2 separate regions of the Homo sapiens genome follow, and region 2 is linked to region 1. A link means that fine-mapping ties the variant in region 1 to the expression of a gene that starts in the linked region. Tissue or cell type: whole blood. Region 1 holds a variant in brackets; the other region holds the start of a gene. All regions are shown on one strand. Distances are between the middles of the regions.

Region 1 (8,183 bases):
CAGAGTCTTATCTGGTCGCTAACCTTGTACATTTGGCTGCAGTCCCATGGGACTACTTGTCCCCTTACTTTTTCAGCTGTTGACACTTCTGTTCATATGAACTTGTGGTTTCTGTACCAAGAACATCCAGATCCCTTTTCCTTCTGGTCAAGTGTTACCTCCTTTAAGATGTGGCTGAAGCAACACCTCCTTTTCCTTTTTCAAAACCTTTTTTCTTGAGATACAGTCTCACTCTGTCGCTGAGGCTGGAGCGCAGTATATACACACATACACTTATACACACACACAAACATTTATTTTTATTTAGTTATTTTTTGAGATGGAGTCTTGTTCTGTTGCCCAGGCTGGAGTGCAGTGGCACAATCTCAGCTCACCACAACCTCCGCTTCCCCGGTTCAAGTGATTCTGCTGCCTCAGTCTCTCGAGTAGCTGGGGTTACATGTGTACACCACCAGGCCGTTAATTTTTGTATTTTTAGTAGAGACAGGGTTTCACCATGTGGGCCAGGCTGGTCTTGAACTCCTGACCTCGGGTGATCCGCCCGGCTCAGCCTCCCAGAGTGCTAGGATTACAGGTGTGAGCCACTGTGCCTGGCCATATATTTATTTATTATTATTTTTTGCGACAGAGTCTCCCTCTATTGCCTAGGACGGAGTGCAGTGGCATAGTCTCGGCTCACTGCAACCTCTGCCTCCTGGGTTCAAGCGATTCTCCTGCCTCAGCCTCTCGAGTAGCTGGGACAACAGGGTCATGCCACCATGCCCGGCTAATTTTTTTATATTTTCAGTAGAAACAGCGTTTCACCATATTGGCCCGGCTGGTCTTGAACTCCTGACCTCATGATCTGCCCGCCTCGGCCTCCCAAAGTGCTGGGATTACAGGCATGAGCTGCTGCACCCGGCCTGTATTTTATTTTAAAACAGAGATGGGGTCTTGCTATGTTGCCCAGGCTGGTCTTAAATTCTTGGCCTGAAGTGATCTTCCCTACTAGGCCTCCCAAAGTGTTGGGATTGTACACGTGAGCCACTATGCCCAGCCCAATTATGTCCTTTTCCTGATACCTTCTCCATCTTCATGGGCAGAGTCATCTCTTCCCCTCTTGCTCTCTCAACCATTCATTTTACCAAATAGAAGGGCATGTATTCACATGTTTGTTCCCTGCACTAGGCTGAGAGCTTCTGCAGGCAGGGACCATCATCTTAATTTACCTTTGGATCCCAGTGCGAGGCTTGCATTTAGGGTTTCAGTAAGTATGTGTGAAACAGAGTAGCCTCTGTTTCTCTGAAATAGCCTCTGAAAACAAGTCTCTCAACAGTTTCAAGGAATGGATCTCGCAACCTTCATGAACTCACTAAGTGCTTCCATTGAGAAGTGCTCATTATTTCACGGGGATGAAGAACAGAAGCACCAAGCTGTGTTAAAGTGAGGAGTCAGTGGCCAGTGGGGCTCACTCTCTCGCTGTGTGACCGGCTCTCTTGCACAGCAGAAACAAATGCAAATCCATGAATTTTCATGACTGAAACCACAAAGTTAAATTTGTGACTGCCAACACCTACTATATATAGAATATTAAAGCAATTTAAAAGAGCAGATAGAATAGCTTTCCATAAGAAAGATACTACAAGAAGGAAGATTATCCCATGTTAACAGCAACCTTTGCATTTTGTGATCTGAGGACCTGTTTAATTCTATCACAGGATCCTATGCTGATCTCCTATATCATGACCCTGTTAGCCCCAGAGGCCACCATGAGGTAGGTACATTGTAACGCCTCATTAAATGACTGCTGAGGGCCCAAAGGGTGTCTCACTTGCTTTCCTAGCTGGGTGCATGCAGGATGCTGGGAAAATACAGTTCATAATTTTCTCAGGGTACGCTTACACGTCATAACGAAACAAATAAACATAATGAGACAGTCTCTGTTTTCATAAGGAAATCTCCAGCCAATGGTCACCTCTTGGGATAGTATTTCACTGGCCAGAGATGCAAAGACGTGTGAACAATTCTCTAACGTCATCCTTCCAGGTTACTACAGCCATGCCAAAGACACGCAACATAGGCATTAAGGCAATCTGAGACTGTAAACAGTGGTTAGCTAGCTCCTGCACGCTTCCATGAGGCCTCATTAAGAAGGTCTAAACTCAAGTGAAAAATAATGGCTTACTTTAATTGGGGCTTTAGAGGCTTGTCTTCTCCCTTTTATTTTCCTTCCTCTCTCTGTAATTTCCATCTTCTTGGTCCTTATGCTCTTAAGCTCACAATAGTAAAATTCCCACATTTCTGGTGCTCTCATCTCGGTCAAGAGACCAATGAATAATTAATTTATCCCAAGCCATGCCTAGCTAATATTAGCTTAATATGCTACAACTCCCATGGATATTTGCATTTTAAAAGAAAATATTTGAAGATGCAAGGCAATGAAACGATTCTTGGTAAGGAACATTTTATATACATATCACTTGGAAGAAATGAAAGCTCTTTCTTCAGAAATAAACTTAAAGCGGCCAATTTTAAGAATTAAAAAAGGTGTTAAGGGGGCAATTAATACTTTTACTTTGATAATAGAAAAGGCTGGGATGGGAGGAGGCGACAACAAACAATAAACAGTTGGAAGCTGTGAAAATTGATTTCTGGAGCAATCCCACAAGTAAAAAGTAAACATTTTTCTCGAACTAGAAGGAAACACCAAATTCTGATTAAGCAAAATTTATGTACTAGCACTTGAATTTAGTAGTAAAGGTACTCTTAATATTTACATTGATTCAAATATTTCCCAAAATTGGGTATTATAGTCCTAAAGTTAAAAAAAAGAGAAGATTCCTAGTACTTGGTTGACTACTGTGATAGGATTTTCCCCCTCACCATTCTTTTCACTGGAGAAAAGATCTACCATTGAACCTACAGAACCAGACATGACGGCAGCCACCTCAAGTTCAGTTCATTGACCACCAAAGAGGCTGTCTTTGCTAAGGGAGTTATGCTGGCCACCTGAAACTGGCTGATGCGGGCATGTTAAAATTCAGTTCTAAGCTATTGTTTAATGGGTATAGAGTTTCAGTTTTACAAGATGAAGAGAGTTCTGTGGATGGACGGTGGTGACGGTAGTATGACACAAATATACTTAGTCCTGTACTTAAAAATGGTTAGGATGGTAAATTTTATCTGTATAACAATCTGAAAAAAAAAATGAGTTCTATTTCAAAATGTGTCTTTTAAATCTTCATAAATGAAATTTCCTAGATGTTCACTTATCTGGGGGAGCTAATATGTCTAATGATCAAAAACATACACAGTACCTTAGGTACAAGTATACCCATTATTTAGGCAGGAGCACTTTTTTTCTCTCTATCCAAAACATCATGATTTCCTGTGCCACGGATACATTCAGAAACTGAAATATCTGATTTTGGCAGTACCAGGAGACTGGCAAATCTAGCTAGTAAAATATTTTCATTTTTTTACACATGACTAAAAGCTACATGCAGTTTGAGATATCTTCTACCTTTTAAAATAGCTGTGTAAAAGGAGGTAAGAAATGATAGTGCACACTGGTGTTAAGAACCTTGTCACACATCTTGTACTGTCCTCAGTATAGCATTCTCTACATTCCAGAGACCCAAGGAAATATGCAACATAAATGAGTACAAAACCTACCATAAGCACTGTTTCCAGAAGCCACATTAATCCTTATAGAACTTCCAATATAGTTTCAAGTAACTTTGTTCTCTTCTCATCCTTCATACCCTTCTAACTTATTATAATCCATCCTAGTCCTTAGGTGTTCATCGCCTAGCACCATTTTTTATTTGATTAAAAATAGCTCATCCTGCCCATCACTGACAGAGTTACGAAATTTAAAACTTCTGGAGAGTTCTCTCCACAGTCAATGGATTGAGATGATTACTGAGTTCCAGGAGAGCACTCCTGGAGAGACACAGGAAAGTCTTACCTTGCTTGTTCCAAGGGATGCTAAAAAAGGTTACTAGCTTTCATAGAAAATAGCTTCTAGATGGCCCTCCCCAATTTCCTTGGGGTTCCAAATTTTAGATACTAAGATAAGGACAAAGCAAGCAGTGTTCTCCTTGGCCAGCAGCATGATGTTATCATAAATAGAGCAGGCAGCAAATAAACAGGCAATCAAGGATTCCAAAATGCCACATGCAATATCTCTTTTATTTAGTCTGATCATACATGACAGGAAAAATAGGACCTTATTCATA[G/A]ATTTGGAAAGGAATAAAGTTGTTTTACTGAGTTAAAGTTAAAATGGCATATATTGTTTCTCATTAAAGCAATAAAAGACAGCTTTTAAATTCTAAAACTAAATACTTTCAAGTTTTTAAGTGTTTTCAAAATTACTTTTTTGTAGACAAGAGTCTTGCCTTGTTGCCCAGGCTGGAGTGCAGTGGCATGATCATGGCTCACTGTAGCTTTGAACTCCTGGGCTCAAGCAATACTCCCACCTCAGCCTCCAGAGTAGTTAGGACTACACAGGTGTGTACCACCATGCTTAGCTAATTTTTAAATTTTTTTTTGTGGAGATGGGGTTTCACTATGTTGCTAAAGATGGTCTTGAACTTCTGAGCTTCAACAATCCTCCTGCCTTGGGCTCCCAATGTACTGGGATTCCACTGTACCTGGCCCCAATTTTTTTAAAAAAGGAACCTCTAATGAAAATTATTACTGCTGAATTTTTACTCTGGTTTACTGTAGTAAACACAGAATGAGTTAAAATAAGAGGAACTACTTAGGGGCATATCTGAATTCATGTGAAAACTGCTATCTTTAGCTCTGTCCTCACTAAATGCTTCAGAATATGACTATAAATCATTTCCAAAGAAGTTATGTACTGTACAGCAAACATTTCTGCTAGGTTTATAAATAAACCTTAATAATTATGCAGGTGATCCAATAATAAACATACACAAAGGTGTGTCAGCCTCTGAAAGATATAACATGCTGACTAGGGGCACATACTCCAGACCCAGATTGCCCTGAATTTGAATCTCATCTCTGCCATTTACTAGTTGTTTGTCTTTGGGCAAATTATTTACGTTTTCTATGCCTCAATTTCCTATTCTGTAAAACAGAGATAAGAGCATCTACACTTCATATGAGGCATAAATGTGTTACTTGTAAAGTACTTGTAATAGTGTGTGGCACATAAAACTATATAAGTATTTGTTAAATAGAAACTCAAAACAAATTCCATGGACACTGTCTCAACAGTATTTTATGCACCATCAACTTGAGTAGTTAGAAAAGCTATGGTTTGGCCATTTCAAGCATTCATGAATGCAGCAGATACACAGAACCAAGAGATGTTACAGTTTAAGAAGCAAAGCCATTCTCAATGGGCTAGGGTGTGAGGAAGAGGGACAAAGCTTAAAAGCCAACCTATGGGAGACTGACTGGAAATCGAAGAGCTGGAATCAGAGCGCTTTATTTTACTCCCAGGATGGTGAACTAGAATAAAAAATACGTAAACAGAAAGAAACAGACAGGGCAGGAAACGCAGAAACTAGTCAAGAAAGACAAATTGGCAGACAGTGGGGGAGCCTCCTGTGCACCCACATGCAGCTCTGCTAACAGGAAAAAGGCAAGGACATAGCTGAAGAGGATTTAGCAATTGGAACCGGTCATCTCTTCCCTGTTGCAGTCCCCACACACCCCCTAGCTGCAGATGCCACCACTCATGCTCATATTAAATTGACAGTCTCCTTATGCTTCTGGGCTGGTGGGCCAGCCTTTTCACATTTAGCAGAAAGACACCCCATGGTCTTGCTTAGGTGGCCACCTGTCTTAGAAGTGAATGGGCTCACATGTAGGTGTCTTTATCCTTCCTCCTGGTCCAGGGGGCTCACCAGTTCTTCCCTGTATGAGAAGGGCCTAACACTCTCCCTGAGTATCAGCCACAGGAATTACAGGCAAAGGGATCTGAGGCACTAAGAGGGAACCTAAAGGGCTTCACTGGGCTCCTTTCTAGGATAGTGTTAATTTAATACCCCAAACAAACATTCGAGTAACACCAATACACTCTTAATTCTCATTACTGCATTCCTCTAGACCTACCTCCCCAAATAGCATCAACCTCTTCAGCTTTTTCTCCCTGGCCTATGCTGGCACCCCTGAGTTCTAATCTGTGCTAGTGGGATGACACCTGGGCAGCTTAACAAAATAAAAAACAGACAGACCCCACCATCAATGCTTCCTGTAAGCATAAAAGATCACTGCTGGGGGCATACCTAACACGTAATTCATGCTTAGAATGGTTCCTTACCTCGGCAGGGATCATTTTTCACTAAAAATTCATCCAAGGCCATCCATCCTCCACCAACGCGAACCATCACGGTGCTGCGCAGAATACGGACCAGCCGCAACTGCTGAGAATCCCCAAACTGTAGAATCAAAGGAAACTTAATTAATATATATGTCTTAAAGCAGATCTATGTTTTTCTCCCAAAGCAGACTGTATTCAGACAGGAATGACAATTTGATAGCTACAGAAGAATTGTTAACTCTCACAATTTTGCATTTTTATATATTTCACAAAAGGATTTTAAAAATAGAAAAGCAGAAATATCAAGCTAAAGACTGGTGTCTTGATATACTTTTTTCTTTGTGAGACAGAGTTTCACTCTTGTTGCCCAGGCTGGAGTACAACAGTGTGATCTCAGCTTACTGTAACCTCTGCCTCCCAGGTTCAAGCAATTCTCCTGCCTCAGCCTCCCGAGTAGCTGGGTTTATTAGGCGTGTGCCATCACGCCCAGCTAATTTTTGTATTGTTAGTAGAGACGGGGTTTCAACATGTTTGCCAGGCTGTCTTGAACTCCTGACCTCGTGATCCGCCAGTCTTGGCCTCCCAAAGGGCTGGGAATACAGGCATGAGACACTGCGCCGGGCCAATATACTTTCTATTGGGATAAAAATCACTTTTAATGGTCACACCACTGCCTCTGCACCAAAAGGAGAGGTAGGAAAACAGACAAAGTGTTAGGTCACTTTATTTTTTTAAAAGAGATTCTGCTCAATTAAAAATTCATATTCTTGGCATGCTAATTTGTTTTCCTAAAAGAAAGATTGTGGATATCAACTTCTGAATACAGTATGCTTTAAAGCTAAATGGAAAATAGTGAATACTATTTCAAGCCTTAAGGAAACCTTTGCAAAGCATCATTACAAGCTTAGAAGAAAATCTGATTTTCTGCATCAGGTTTTCAGGAATTAACCCGAAGTATTTGCTAATTGCAGTGTCACCAGCAGAAAAGTTTCTTCAGCTGAACAAATGATTAGGTCATATTTATACTAAAATTGAGTTGAAGCAATTAAAAATTGTAGCTCCCATGATGATTATGAACAGTATCCAATAATCATTTTAGATGCTAAAACAAGCATATTTCTGATTATTTATGTTTTCCCTTTTTTCTTGCCCAAACATTCCTACTTCCCAGCTCTAAACATCTGGAGTTTCTCATGGCATAAATTACCCTCTTTCCAAAATGAAGTAAGGAGCAACAAAAGAGAAGTATGCAGAGTTTCCAAAACAAACAAACATCTGGTAGGAGAAATGGAATTCCTAAAATCATTCAATTCAAGGGTTCCTCGGGTATGGAGTTGGTAGGATTTTCTTTTTCTTTTTCTTTTTTTTGAGATGGAGTCTCGTTCTGTCGCCTAGGCTGGAGTGCAGTGGCGCGATCTTGGCTCATTGCAAGCTCCGCCTCCTGGGTTCATGCCATTCTCCTGCCTCAGCCTTCCGAGTAGCTGGGACTACAGGCGCCCGCCACCAGGCCGGCTAATTTTTTGTATTTTTAGTAGAGACGGTGTTTCACCGTGTTAGCCAGGTTAGTCTCGATCTCCTGACCTCGTGATCTGCCCGTCTCGGCCTCCCAAAGTGCTGGGATTACAGGCATAAGCCACCACGCCCGGCCAGGATTTTCAAAGTTATAAAGGACAACTGTAACTTTAAAACAAGGCAGAAAAATTGAAAATGCAAGAAAGGATATCTGAGGTCATATAGCCATCCTCCCTCAAAATTAATATACTTGTGGTAATTCTCCATATTCCTTAGCTGCTCTGACTCAAATGCAGTATTTGCACAGGCAAGGCAATTGAAAAATACTGTATCCTCCCTCCCAGCCCTTTACTTTGAAAATAAAAGAAGTCCCACACCTTTCATCTGATACAAT
Region 2 (8,183 bases), 110 kb before region 1:
GGTGGGTGCCTGTAATTCCAGCTACTTGGGAGGCTGAGGCAGGAGAATCACTTGAATCCGGGAGGTGGCGGTTGCAGTGAGCCGACATCACGCCACTGCACTCCAGCCTGGGTGACAGAGCAAGTCTCTGTCTCAAAAAAAAAAAAAAAAAAAAAAAGGCTGGGCGTGGTGGCTCACCCCTGTAATCCCAGCACTTTGGGAGGCCGAGGCGGGCAGATTACAAGGTCAAGAGATTGAGACCATCCTGGCCAACATGGTGAAACCCCATCTCTACTAAAAATACAAAAATTAGCCAGGTGTGGTGGCACGCACCTGTAGTCCCAGCTACTCGGGAGGCTGAGGCAGGAGAATTGCTTGAATCCGGGAGGCGGAAGTTGCAGTGAGCCTAGATCGCAGTACTGCACTCCAGCCTGCCAATAGAGCGAGAGTTGGTTTCAAAAAAAAAAATAGCCAGGTGTGGTGGCGCATGCCTGCAATCCCAGCTACTTGGGAGGCTGAGGCATGAGAATTGCTTGAACCTGGGAGGCAGAGGTTGCAGTGAGCCGAGACTGCACCACTGCACTCCAGCCTCGGTGACAGAGGAAGATTTCATACCCCCCCCACAAAAAAAACAAGAAAACACACACACACACACACACACACACACACACACACACAAACATATATTGAATATTTATTTATCTATTTATTTTTTAGTAACAGAGTCTCACTCTGTTGCTCAGCCTGGAGTGCAGCGACATGATCATAGCTCACTACAGCCTTCAACTCCTGGCCTCAAGCGATCCTCCTACCTCAGACTCCCAAGTAGCTGAGACCACAGGCATGTGTCCCCACACCCAGCCAATTAAAAGAAAATTTTTTTTTGTAGAGATAGGGTCTCACTCTGTTGCCCAGGCTGGTTTCAAATGTCTGGGCTCAAGCGATCCTCCTGCCTCAGCCTCCCAAAGCACTGAGAGTATAGGTGTGAGCCACCTGCCTGGCCAGTTACTGAACATTTAGTACGTGCTATGTTAAGCACTATTCTAGATTCCTGTTCTCATGAAGCTTATATACCAATGTGGAAAAGATAGATACTAAACAGGTAAACAGATATAGAACAACATAATTTTGGGTAGGAATAACAGGCTTGAAGACAAGAAGACAAGTTGGTGTGATAGTGATTAACAATGTTGACGGCTACTTTAGACCACAGGAGGTCTAGGAAGACTTTCCTGAGGAGGGAATCTATAGAAGGAGCACTCCCATAAATGTTCCTTTTTTTTTGAGACGGAGTCTCGCTCTGTCACCCAGGCTGGAGTGCAGTAGCATGATCTCAGCTTACTGCAACCGCTGCCTCCTGGGTTCCAGCGATTCTCCTGCCTCAGCCTTCCAAGTAGCTGGGACTATAGGCACGTGCCATCATGCCCGGCTAATTTTGTATTTTTAGTAGAGATGGGGTTTCACCATGTTGGCCAGGCTGGTCTCGAACTCCTGACCTCAGGTGATCCGCTCACCTCAGCCTGCCAAAGTGCTGGGATTACAGGTGTGAGCCATCGTGCCCAGCCAATGTTTCTTGATTTAATATAGTTATTAGAATATAAACTCCATGAGAGAGGGAGTGACTTCTGGTCCACCATGGTATCTCCAGCCCCTGTATTGACATTGGCATAGAGTAGGCTCAGATTAACCATTTATTTGAATTAATTAATATATAAATACACATATTTCTTTAGTCATTTACTTAAATCAGTGCTTTTGAAGGGGGATGTCTGTGTCTTTTGGCAATTTCTGTTTTTGGTTTTCACAGTGATGGCAAAGGTGGTTCCTGGCACTTATGGAAGAAGGGATGCTATATATCTTGTAATGCGTGTGGACAGTCCCATATAACATAGTCCTATAAAGTGATATGACTTTTTTTTTTTTGAGACGGAGTTTCGCTCTTGTTGCCCAGGCTAGAGTGCAATGGCATGATCTCAGCTCACCACAACCTCTGCCTGCCGGGTTCAAGCGATTCTTCTGCTTTAGCCGCCTGAGTAGCTGGGATTACAGGCATGCACCCCCATGTCTGGCTACTTTTTGTATTTTTAGGAGAGACGGGGGTTTCTTCATGTTGGTCATGCTGGTCTCGAACTCTCGACCTCAGTGATCCGCCCGCCTCGGCCTCCCAAAGTGCTGGGATTACAGGCGTGAGCCACCACGCCTGGCCTGTGATACGACTTTCAAATGACCTGCCAGACTCTCATGCAGATGAAAAGTCTTTTTATAATTATCCAAGCCTAGAAGAAACTTTAAACATAGGAACAGAAAGTATTTCTGTGCCCTTAAACACAAACTAAATGTCCGGGAATGCCACCAGCATGTCAATAGAGGGGATGCTTGTGTTTGGTTTCATTGAAGCTTTACCAAAATGTGCTCATCTTTTCAGAAAATCCCATCACCCATGGATACTGCTTGCATTTCTAGTTCCTGACGATTCTACCTCTAGGTCAACGGTATCCTGAAAACTTCTCAAATCTTTATTGTATTTGGACCCAGACATTTACCTATTGGACCACCTATTATTTTATTTTAACTTATTTTATGTCACCTTCATTTCACAATTTGGCATACCATTTAATTTTTTTTTTTTTGAGAGGGAGTCTCACTCTGTTGCCCAGGCTGGATGGAGTGCAGTGGCACGATCTTGGCTCACCGCGACCTCCGCCTCCCGGGTTCAAGCTATTCTCCTGCTCAGCCTCCCGAGTAGCTAGGACTACAGGCGCATGCCACCACGCCCGGCTAATGTTTTGTATTTTTAGTAGAGACGGGGTTTCACCGCGTTAGCCAGGATGGTCTCGATCTCCTGACCTCCATGATCCATCCGCCTCGGCCTCCCAAAGTGCTGGGATTACAGGCGTGAGCCACTGCACCCAGCCCCATACCATTTAATTTTAAACCTCATGCGTGTGTGCAGGTTAAATGGCTCCTAGGTTCCATTCCCGGGTGATGGGTGGGAGGGTGTTAAGATTTATTTGTTATAGAAAGGGGCCCTGGGGTCTCCCGCAGCCGCGAGCTGGGCGGTCCTCCCGGCGCCAGGGGTCGCTGTAGCGCCGCGCGGCCGCGCCGGGTCGCTCTCGCGTGGCCGCCCCGCCTCGGGCCCCCGGGCCGAGTGGGCGGGCACGACTGCGCCCAGGTCGCGAGGCGCCCTTCGACCAGCAGCGCCCGGGGCGGGCGGGTATAAATGGAGCGGTGGCTCCCTCGGCCGCCTCTCTCCGCCCCGGGTCGCTGCCGCCTCCGCCGCTTTCGGGCTTCGCAGCCTGAGGAAAAAAAGAGAAAAAGATAAAAAAAATCTGAAAACGCTTCAAAATCCTGAAAAAAAAAAAGGAAAAGAAAAAACGAATCCTCGGAGAACCCGCGGGGAAGTCACTTTCGTACGCTTCCGGCCTGCCCCGCGCCCGCCGCCGCAGCGCTTGGCGTCCGTCGGTCTCCGTCCGTCGGTCCGGGGGTGAGCCGCCCGCCCGGCCCGCCGTGCCCTCCCCCCGCTCGGGCCCCGAGCCCCGCGCCCCGCGCCTGCCCCGGCGCACCACGTGTCCGTGCTGCCCTTCGCCGCCCGCCCGGGGCTCGCCGAGTCGGCGCCCACAAAGATTTGGTTTCCCTCTGCCCCGGCGGTTGTAATCTTAAACCGCCGGAGCCCGAGGCCTATATTTATAGAGAAACGCGTGTCCCCGAGGCCGCCGTGGGCAGCGTCCGGTCGCCTCTTAAAGGATTTTTACCCTTCGGAAGGGGATTCCCCGTTTAATTTTTTTCCTACTTTGATTTTTTGAAATTTGGAGCTTCGCACCAGGACCGCGGAGAAGTGCAAAGTCGCGGGGAGGGCCGTATTGTGCGGAGAGCCTTTTGTCTGCGGTGCTGCGGCCGTGGGAGCCGGCCCCCGCCTCCCGTTTCCGTCCCGTCTCCAAGCCCGCCGACTCCAGCTCGTCCTCGCCGCGCCGGTGCCACCTGTGAGCCGCGGCGCGGGCCCGGGCTCCGAAGGCGCCCCTTTGTCCTGCGGCGGGCCCGATAAGAAGTCCTCCTGGCGGGGCTCGGGGTGGTGGGGGGCGGGGAGATGAACGCTGCGGCCAGCAGCTACCCCATGGCCTCCCTGTACGTGGGCGACCTGCATTCGGACGTCACCGAGGCCATGCTGTACGAAAAGTTCAGCCCCGCGGGGCCTGTGCTGTCCATCCGGGTCTGCCGCGATATGATCACCCGCCGCTCCCTGGGCTATGCCTACGTCAACTTCCAGCAGCCGGCCGACGGTGAGTAGAAGCTGTGCCCACACGTGCGTGGGAGCCCGGAGGACCCCGGGAGTCGTCTTCTGGCAGGGCCCTCCTGCCGAGGAGGGCGGCATCACGACAGCATGTTGCCACCGAAGCTGGGAGCAGGGTGCGGAGATTGAGAACGCGGACCTGGCATCAGATGACTCGAGTTTCAATCTTGTTTCTACCACTTGCTAACTGGGTGACCTTGGGCTACTTATTAGTGTTGCTGGTAGTGGGGTTGGAAACCAAGGAGACTGTAAAACAGGATTAGAGTGAAGCCACTGGCATTCCACTGCGTGTGGTCCTTGTCAGTGGGGCTGGGCTGTTAGAGATCCTTGCTTGTGCCCCTCACAGGCTGGCCAAAAAGGCGGGACGTTTGAAACACAATTCCCCGCGAAAGTTTTACATTGTAAAGCTCCTGCCCGCTCCGCCACCTTTACTAACCTTGACTACCTGATGTTGTGCTGATAAAGGATCAGTCAGGGCAGGCAGGAAGCAGGGGGAAGGTTTCTGTGCGTTAAACTTTCGCAGAGACTTAGGTTAGTGCCACAAAAGCTGCGTGTGCCAGGCCACCTCCTTGGTCTGTGTGTTTGCCACTGGAGTGGAGAAGTGCTTTACTCTGGACAAATGGTATCCAGGCTCTGTGCTGTAGAGTGTCGTGGAGGTAGTTTAGGGAAGCGTCACTTGAAAATCTGGTGTCATTTGTCACCTCAGCTGTAACAGTGCTTTGCACTAGTCAGAGCCCTTTTATTTCATCTAATCTGAAGAAAATGGGACTCCTGAGAAGGAGAACGAATGCAAAAAGTTGGAAGCCAAGTTAGGACTCCCAGCACAGTGCTCTGCCACCTCAGATTGTGGCCTTAGCGTGGAGCATGGAGAGAGGTATGCTGCAGGCGTGGCAGGAGGGAGGCCAGAGGAAACCTGATCAGAGGCTGCACGTGACTCCAGATTAAAAGGGAACAACTGCAGAGATCATTACTGGGAGAAACAAGCCATTCTATGGCAAAGCATCTCCAGGTCCCTAGTTTTGGGGTCCCCCCTTTGTTTTCTGTCTGAGGCCCAGAGTTACTACCTGCCCAGGTTGCGGCTGAGACCAGAGAATTGGACATGTTGAGAGGGACTAGGTATTGCTACTGTCAATCCAGTGTGCTCCAAGCTGAGTTCTGTCCATGGCCATAGGAGCGCAAAGGTAGCTGAGTGTGGTCTTTTTAAGGGATAATGTACCACATTAGCTGTTGTCTGCCTTACTGACTTTTGAACAAAAGTCGTGTCACTTAGAGATAGCAGAAGCTATTGGTCAGTGTGTCTGCCAACACATACTTCTGCAGGACTTCTCCCTGCTATAAATAAGTGCAGCCAGATTTGTCAGACTAAGCCGGCTTGCCTTGTGCAGTGCTGTCTGGAAATAGACGAGGAGCTGTTGTTGAAGTGGGCTCCTTTACTGCTAATTAATGAAATAGTTTGCGATCCCAGCTATCTATCTCTGATAGCCATCACAAGCAAAGTCCTCTTTCCCTGGACTGTTCCTGACTTGGATCGGTCTTGTCATCTCCCCTTTTCCCAACTACCCCCCACACAGATGAGGCCCACCTTCTGAAGGGGGTGGGGAAAGTTGTTGGAAATAATGAGTGAAAATAAATTCTCCCGGCTAATGAAACAGTTGAGCTTGTGGAGCGGCAGAGTTGGGGAATTTTGTCCCCCCTTTAAGTGAGATGTTGTCCTGAGGCAAGGAGCAGGTTCCACTGCTCTGACCCTGTCTAAATCCCCTCATGGAGGAGGTTCTGGGTGATGTCACCGTTAGGAGATGCCATCATAGCCTTAAGGAAAAGTGGCCACCAGATCTGGGCATCCTTGTTGCGATTAGTGATGAGAAGTGTTTTGGCTGGCAGGTGGTGTTATTTTTTAGCTTTTGGTTCTTTTTGTTGTTGTTTGTTTTGAGACACTGTTTCACTCTTGCTGCCCAGGCTGGAGTGCAATGGCGCGATCTCAGCTCACTGCAACCTCTGACTCCTGGGTCCAAACAATTTTCCTGCCTCAGTCTCCTGAGTAGCTGGGATTACAGGCACCCGCCACCATGCCCAGCTAATTGTGTATTTTTAGTAGAGATGGGGTTTTCACCATGTTGGTCAGGCTGGTCTCGAACTCCTGACCTCAGGTAATCCACCCGCCTTGGCCTCCCAAAGTGCTGGGATTACAGGAGTGAGCCACCATACCCAGCCCAGCCTTTGGTTCTTTAAATTGTCTCTGGTGTACACACGGACTTGGTTGGGAAGCTAAGGAAGCATTCCAAGGTGTTGGATGGGGAAGTTGGTTGAGCACCCAGGGTAGCTGAAGTCCTAGAATTCTACAGAACTTCCATTAAGGCTTCAAAAGGTGGGTGCAGGGCCTGCCATCTGCGCACTGTCTACTTAGGCAGAAGGTATGGTGGTTTTATCCTTGTGATAGTACAGAGAACTTTTCCATGTGTGATCAGTTGTGTCCATTTTGATGACTGATGCTTTTTTGTTTAAGTCAATTTCTGTTCTCAGAAATTGAAAATAAACTGGACTGAATTCTGAATTCAGGGATAGCACCTTTTTTTTTTTTTCCAGATCATTTGCTTTACAGGTTTTGTCACTTGTCTCCATAGGTGGATTGCAGACTAAATGACTTGATAACTTTGATGCAATACCTCACTGAAAAATAAATCAGATAATCTAGTATTAGTTTCGTAATTACTAGCTAGCTGCACAGCTTAGTTACCCTAAACATAAGTTTGTTCATTTTGTAAAATGTATAATTTCAGCTGTCCCACCTGAGTCATGGTGGGTGGTAGTCTGCAAAGTCTCTTCTAAGTGGTAAAGCTTAGTCAAATGTGAGGTATTATCACTGGATCTTGGTGTCATTAAGGCCATTTAGATTATCTTTACTTGTGGCCCCTTTATCCAACAAGGGCACAGACCCAGAAGGGTGTTTAGACTTCTGTCATGAAGTAGAGTCATTAGCTGGAACTTATGCTTCCCTTACTAACAGTGCAGGCTGGAGGAATCTGATGCCCTTTTATTTTAATAGAGTTGCCTTTTATCAAGAGTGATTACCTTGAAAAGTCCTGGAGTAATCTGTTCTTAGGCTGTTGGCCTGTGGGAGCTGACGTTTTCTCTCCTTATTGAAATGTGTTTCTCTCTTACAGCTGAGCGGGCTTTGGACACCATGAACTTTGATGTGATTAAGGGAAAGCCAATCCGCATCATGTGGTCTCAGAGGGATCCCTCTTTGAGAAAATCTGGTGTGGGAAACGTCTTCATCAAGAACCTGGACAAATCTATAGATAACAAGGCACTTTATGATACTTTTTCTGCTTTTGGAAACATACTGTCCTGCAAGGTAAACATTGATTAAATGATTTTAGCAGAATAATTAATTGATTCTTGAAAACAAGATAAATACCAAACAGAGAACTATCTTGGAATTGGGGAACAAGATATGGGAATTTTCAAAATGCTGGACATGGAATCCTAAAAGTTCCCATAGGTAATCTCAGGGCCATACCCAGCGTAACCAGCACACGCTTTCATACCCTTGTTCTTTACTCAGCCTGAAATATCCTTCCTATTCTTTAGCTTTGGAAAGCCCACGTTTTTCTTTTGGGATGGGGGAAAGTAGAGGACCAGAGAAGTGTCTCTAGTCTTGAGGAAACTTAATCACTTTAGAAGCATAAATTCACTCTATTCCTTCTACGTATCTGTTCTATGCTGAGCACTTTAAAACTTAAACGGTGGTGGTGTATATGTTTAATGCCATACTACACTGAAAATCTGTTGTGGCCTTGGAAAATGTTTTGTTTTCTGCATCACCGTGGTTTGCACCCAGATCTCTTAAAATGTGTTGTTGTGTTTTAAAGAGACAGAGTCTTGCTCTGTCTGTCACCCAGGGTGGAGTGCAGTG

What was found. PIP is the estimated chance that this variant, and not a neighbour inherited with it, causes the effect.
Region 2: PABPC4 starts here. The variant in region 1 is fine-mapped to the expression of PABPC4 in whole blood (TOPMed, PIP above 0.99).

Annotation. Positions count from the first base shown.
Region 1 is chr1:39,466,827-39,475,009 of GRCh38, reverse strand. MACF1 (microtubule actin crosslinking factor 1) reads right to left here. Exons shown (of 101, transcript NM_001394062.1): 96 at 6,278-6,395; 97 at 5,395-5,463. Among named protein-coding and RNA genes, the nearest start is that of BMP8A, 21 kb to the left of the region's middle. RefSeq lists a silencer at 6,756-6,896. The variant G/A (reference allele first, on the strand shown) is at 4,221.
Region 2 is chr1:39,571,832-39,580,014 of GRCh38, reverse strand. It overlaps PABPC4 (poly(A) binding protein cytoplasmic 4), which reads left to right and starts at 3,225. Exons shown (of 16, transcript NM_001135653.2): 1 at 3,225-4,256; 2 at 7,429-7,622. The coding sequence starts at 4,064. It overlaps PABPC4-AS1 (PABPC4 antisense RNA 1), which reads right to left. Exons shown (of 4, transcript NR_125979.1): 3 at 7,337-7,560; 4 at 6,812-6,934. RefSeq lists a silencer at 2,971-3,280 and enhancers at 3,781-3,850, 4,351-4,400, 4,421-4,540.